2 separate regions of the Homo sapiens genome follow, and region 1 is linked to region 2. The links come from fine-mapping of genetic effects on plasma protein levels. A gene starts in region 2. The other region holds a variant in brackets. All regions are shown on one strand. Distances are from middle to middle.

Region 1 (2,500 bases), 18 kb before region 2:
GCTTAAAATATCCTCATGTGGGCTAGGTGTGGTTACTCACACCTGTAATCCTAGCACTTTGGGAGGTTGAGGCAGGAGAATCCCTTGAGCCAGGAGTTCAAGACCAGCCTGGGCAACATAGCAAGAGATCCCATATCTACCAAAACATACAAGAATTAGCCAGATGTGGTGGTGCATGCCTGTGGTCCCAGATACTCAGGAGGCTGAGGCAGGAGGATCACCTATGCCTGGGAGGTTGAAGCCCCAGTGAGCCATGATCACACCACTGTAGTCCAGCCCGGGTGACACAGCAAGACTCTGTCTCAAAAAAAAAAAAAAAAAAAATCCTCATGCAAGAAGGGAAGGACCAAGTCCCATTCCCTCTTGCCTCATTTTCAGAGCCTGGGGTAGGGGCTACAGGTGGCATAGGAAGGGTCTGCAAGGTGGGTGGGACTTGGCAGGTGTTGGGAAGAGGAATAGGGGTGGCAAGTGTCAATGGTGAAAAGACAGGCTGAGGGGTGTGGTGGGAAGGCTGGGGGAGAAAGGTGAGAAGTGATTGGGGGGGCTTCCCTGATGAGTCCTCATGGAGGGTGCTGAGGCAGGGAACAGGGGTGCAGGGACAGTGATCAGGGCACCTGGTACCCTGACCAACTTGATGATGGCATCTCTTTTAAGATGCCCAAGTCTGCGCACTTTTATTCCTTTATTCGGCCCCTAGCACCCCCTCCCCACCCCAAAGAAGGTCAGTTGCATGCGTGTGGGGATGTAGCTCAAAAAAGAAATAAGATGGAGTGGAAAGGAAAGAAAGGAAGAAGCAGGAATTCAAGGTGGGTGGGCTGAGCTTGGGGCCACCTAGCCCACCTGCTCCAATCAAGGGCTGGAACAAACCTGAGGCCACTTGGAGAGGCAGGGCTGGGCAGGGACAGGGGGTGGGGGCCGAAATCACAGCTTCCCCATCAGAGCCAGATGTGTGAAGGAAATGTCCCAGATGGCAGTAGTTTCTCGGCAAGGAGGGGAATCCTGGAGATGGTTCATGTCTGTGATCCCAGTGCTTTGGGAGGCTGAGGTGGGAGGATTGCTTGAGCCCGGGAGTTCGAGACCAGCCCTGGGCAACATGGCGAGACCCCATCTCTACAGAAATTAAAAAAAAAAATTAGCCAGTTGTGGTGTCAAGCACCTGTAGTCCCAGCTACTTGGGAGGCTGAGTTGGGAGGCTTATCTGAGCCCAGGAGGTGAAGGCTGCAATGAGCCATGATTACACTACTGTACCCCAGCCTGGGCAACAGAGCAAGACCCTGCCTCAAAATTAAGAAAAAAAAAAGGGGGGCCAGGCGCAGTGGCTTATGCCTGTTATCCCAGCACTTTGGGAGGCCAAGGC[A/G]GACTGATCGCTTGAGGCCAGGAGTTTGCGACCAGCCTGGCCAACATAGCAAAACCCCATCTCTACTAAAAATACAAAAATTAGTCAAGAGTGGATGGTGCGTGCCTGTAATCCCAGCTACCTGGGAGGCTGAGACAGGAGAATTGCTTGAACCTGGGAGGCAGAGGTTGCAGTGGTGTGAGATCACGCCACTGCATTCCAGACTGGGCAACATAGCAAGACTCTGTCACAAAAAAAAAAAAAAAAAAGAATTCCCTGCTCTGCTTTTCTGCTCGTTGCTGGCATAGAAACATCTAGAACAGAAAGTATCCACTCTGGGGCAGATGGGAGAGCTGGAAAAGTAGATTCAAGATGCCTTTTAGTCTTGGAAGTTTCTTCCAGGAAGCAAGACCAGCTGGTATGTTTACACCTGCACTCCAGTGCCCTGGGGAGGTGACCAGGTGGAGGGGGATGGCTCATGGAAATCTGTCCCGCACAGCTGGCCCCCTTTTGGCTGCCACTGTCTAGACTGTTGGCCTTTGACCTCTCTGCCTCTTGTGGCGTCTGAACCTAGACGTCCCTTTTGGAGACAGCTGGACAAAGCCCTATTCTCCGCAGCCCCAGCCTCTATCCTGAGGCCTCTGGGAGCTGCGTGACGGCCAGCATGGGGTGCTGATCATGGTCAAGGAGGCAGGTCTTTGCCAGGTTGCCCCATGCAGCCACCCATCCTCAGCATCCTAACTTGAGGGGGCAGGAGAGGGCTTTGTTTTTATAATCCGGATTAAATTTCCCTTCCCTGGGCACAAGTGCCTCATGAGGGCCCGGGGCTGCTGGTTGGGAGGGAAAGCATCCCCGTTTTTGCAGTGAGGAGGCCGGCCGAGGGCTGGGGTTCCACTTAGACCCTTGGCAGAATGGCTGTTGAGGGGCAGGCGCTGCCCAGTGCCCACGTCTGGAAAGCTAATTCCCGGGTGGACGCTGAACATACCTGCTGAGAGACTCTGTCCCCTGGTTTCCAGGACAGTTGTCACAAGCTGAGTGGGGGGGGACTCCCAGGACTTGAGGGACCCAGTCCCACCCCAAACTGCTCCCCCTCCCCCAAATTCCCTTTCTCCTCCTGCTCTTTCTCCCCGCTGTGCCTCCCCCAGTTACCCACAGAAGTGCCTG
Region 2 (3,015 bases):
AGCAACTTGCGGTCACAAGGAAGTGGGTCAAAGTGCAGCCTGATTAGTGCTTAATTATAACTAAGTTTCTGTCCAGAATTCTTTTTTTTTGAGACAGAGTTTTGCTCTTGTTGATCAGGCGGAAGTGCAATGGTGAAAACTTGGCTCACTGCAACCTCCGCCCTCTGGGTTCAAGCGATTCTCTTGCTTCAGCCTCTCGAGTAGCTGGGATTACAGGCATGTAATCCCACCACCAAGCCCAGCTAATTTTGTATATTTAGTAGAGACAGGGTTTCTCCATGTTGGTCAGGCTAGTCTAGAACTCTTGACGTCAGATGATCCACGTGCCTCGGCCTCCCAAAGTGCTGGGATTACAGGCGAGAGCCACCGTGCCCGGCGCAGAATTCTTTTTTTTAGAGATGAGGTATTGCCATCTTGCCCAGACTTGTCTCGAACTCCTGGGCTCAAACAATCCACCCACCTCGGCCTCCCAAAGTGCTGAGATTACTGACATAAGCCACCATGCCTGGCCCCCAGAATTATGAATCCTGTGAGGATGGCTTCAAGGTGAGCGCTGAGCCAGACAAAAGGATGGGGTTTGGGAGCACCCTGCTTAGACTGGAAAGATAATGTTGGAGAAGACTTCCTGGAAGAGGGGCTTTTTGCGTAGAGTTTTGAAGAATGAGTAGGAGTTCTCCAGAGGAGGATGAGTAACTGCAATAACACCCAGTTTATCAAGTGCCTCCTATGTGTCTGGCCCTGTGCTTTACCCCTCATTTGACCACCTCTCCAGTGAGAGTCTCAGTCCTTTTTTTCCTGGTGAGGAAACAGGCATGGCAGAGAGGCATGACACATCAAGGTTGCCCTTCCTGGCTCCATCTAGCCCGTTCTCCTCTGCTTCCTTTGTTTTTCACCATCTTTAGCCTTTGACCCCAACCAAAAAGAGAAGAGAGGAAATCCCATGGGCATAGACAGCCACCTCTTAAACTCTTGTCTGGAATTTTTCACATAGTAACAATGTCTTTTTTTCCTCCAAAAAGACTCCCAGGCTGGAATGGTGTCCTCATATCGAGGAAGAGGATACTGAGGCCCAGAAATGTGCCCTAGCTTTACTAGGAGCGCCCCCACCTAAAGATCCTCCCCCTAAATACACCCCCAGACCCCGCCCAGCTGTGGTCATTGGAGTGTTTACTCTGCAGGCAGGGGGAGGAGGGCGGGACTGAGCAGGCGGAGACGGACAAAGTCCGGGGACTATAAAGGCCGGTCCGGCAGCATCTGGTCAGTCCCAGCTCAGAGCCGCAACCTGCACAGCCATGCCCGGGCAAGAACTCAGGACGGTGAATGGCTCTCAGATGCTCCTGGTGTTGCTGGTGCTCTCGTGGCTGCCGCATGGGGGCGCCCTGTCTCTGGCCGAGGCGAGCCGCGCAAGTTTCCCGGGACCCTCAGAGTTGCACTCCGAAGACTCCAGATTCCGAGAGTTGCGGAAACGCTACGAGGACCTGCTAACCAGGCTGCGGGCCAACCAGAGCTGGGAAGATTCGAACACCGACCTCGTCCCGGCCCCTGCAGTCCGGATACTCACGCCAGAAGGTAAGTGAAATCTTAGAGATCCCCTCCCACCCCCCAAGCAGCCCCCATATCTAATCAGGGATTCCTCATCTTGAAAAGCCCAGACCTACCTTTGAGCCTCAGTTGCCCCATCTGTGCCCTGGGTAGGAATATCCTGGATCCCCTTGGGTCTGATGGGGTAGCCGATGCCTGATTTGCACCCACAACGTGGGAGGTTATAACCTGTCCCCAAGTTGCAAATGGGGAAACTGAGGTACAGGGATGCCAGGGACCCTCCTGAATGTGCACAGCACCTGGGAAACCCGGGGACGGGGTCGGGCGTGCGGTGTGGGCATGGTCCCTGACCTGGGCTGGGGCCAGGATCCAAGAGAAACAATGGGGGTGTGGTGCATGGATAGAAGTTTGTGATGGGCAGAGCCAGCTGGAGCTGGTTCTGAATCTGATGAAATCGCTTGTCAAGGCACTGCTAAAGTCACATGCAACGAGCGACTTGTTAGGGGAGGAGGAGAGTATTTTCCCCATCTCTGTGCCCTCCATGGAGGCTCCAGGGGTGCAGGGCACTGGATGAGGTCTGGGCTGTGGTGGGACCCAGGAGGGGGCAGGCAGAGGGGCACACTCTTAGCCCGCCCTAAACCCATCTGTGCCGTGTGACTCCGGCAAACCTCTCACCCTTGCTAAGCCTAGCAACTAGGTTAAGGCACCCTCAAACCCCAGTCTCCCCAGTCTCCCTAACACTTGTACCAGCCTGAGGGGCTGTGATTCCTAGAGGCTCAGTAGTCTGGAATGTGATGGGTTTGGCACTCTTCATTTCTCGGGATTACACCTGTAATCCCAGCACTTTAGGAGGCCAAGGTGGGAGCATCGCTTTAGGCCAGAACATTGCAGCCTGGGCAGTATAGCGAGAATCCATCTCTACCAAAAATGTTTAAAAAAAATTAGCCAGACATGATGGTGTGTGCCTGTAGTCTCAGTTATTCAGGAGGCTGAGGCGGGAGGAGCACTTGAATCCAGGAGATTGAGGCTGCACTGAGCCATGAGTGCCCCACTGCACTCCAGCCTGGGTAACAGCAAGACCATAATAAATAAATAAATAAGTGAAGCAAGTAAGTTTTTGACTGCCAGAAGAAAAGCAGAGCCATGGTTGGAATCTCAGGCTGCCTGAATATCAGATATACATTAATTCCTTCAAGTATTTACTAAGCACCTATTGTGTGCCAGGCACAGTGTCAACCAAGCTAAGATTCTAAGTAGGGAATATGAATGATACACAAGGAAATAAAATAGGGTGCTTCCTATTTTAGGCAGGCTGGAAGGAAGAGGAGGAGCCAGCCATACTGAGATTCAGGAGATTCAAGGGGAGAAATGCCCTTTTTTTTTTTTTTTTTTTTTTTTTTGAGAGGGAGTCTTCCTCTGTTGCCCAGGCTGGAGTGCAGTGGCACGATCTTGGCTCACTGCAACCTCCACCGC

Direction of the effects. Positions count from the first base shown, and alleles are read on the strand shown. Strength reflects both the effect of a copy and how common the allele is.
In carriers of allele A in region 1, the plasma level of the protein whose gene starts at base 1,261 in region 2 tends to be lower than with G alone (moderate association).

Evidence for each region. PIP is the posterior inclusion probability: the model's chance that the variant is causal. Protein levels are from antibody-based Olink assays in UK Biobank. Linkage for the fine-mapping came from a reference panel and not from the study's own genotypes, which makes the PIPs less certain.
Region 1: its variant is fine-mapped to the plasma level of the GDF15 protein (UK Biobank, PIP above 0.99).

The regions. Positions count from the first base shown.
Region 1 is chr19:18,366,852-18,369,351 of GRCh38, forward strand. PGPEP1 (pyroglutamyl-peptidase I) reads left to right here. Exons shown (of 5, transcript NM_017712.4): 5 at 1-2,500. Among named protein-coding and RNA genes, the nearest start is that of GDF15, 18 kb to the right of the region's middle. The variant A/G (reference allele first, on the strand shown) is at 1,358.
Region 2 is chr19:18,384,898-18,387,912 of GRCh38, forward strand. It overlaps GDF15 (growth differentiation factor 15), which reads left to right and starts at 1,261. Exons shown (of 2, transcript NM_004864.4): 1 at 1,261-1,569. The coding sequence starts at 1,293. MIR3189 (microRNA 3189) reads left to right here and starts at 1,665; the gene lies at 1,665-1,737. RefSeq lists enhancers at 805-1,627, 1,216-1,385.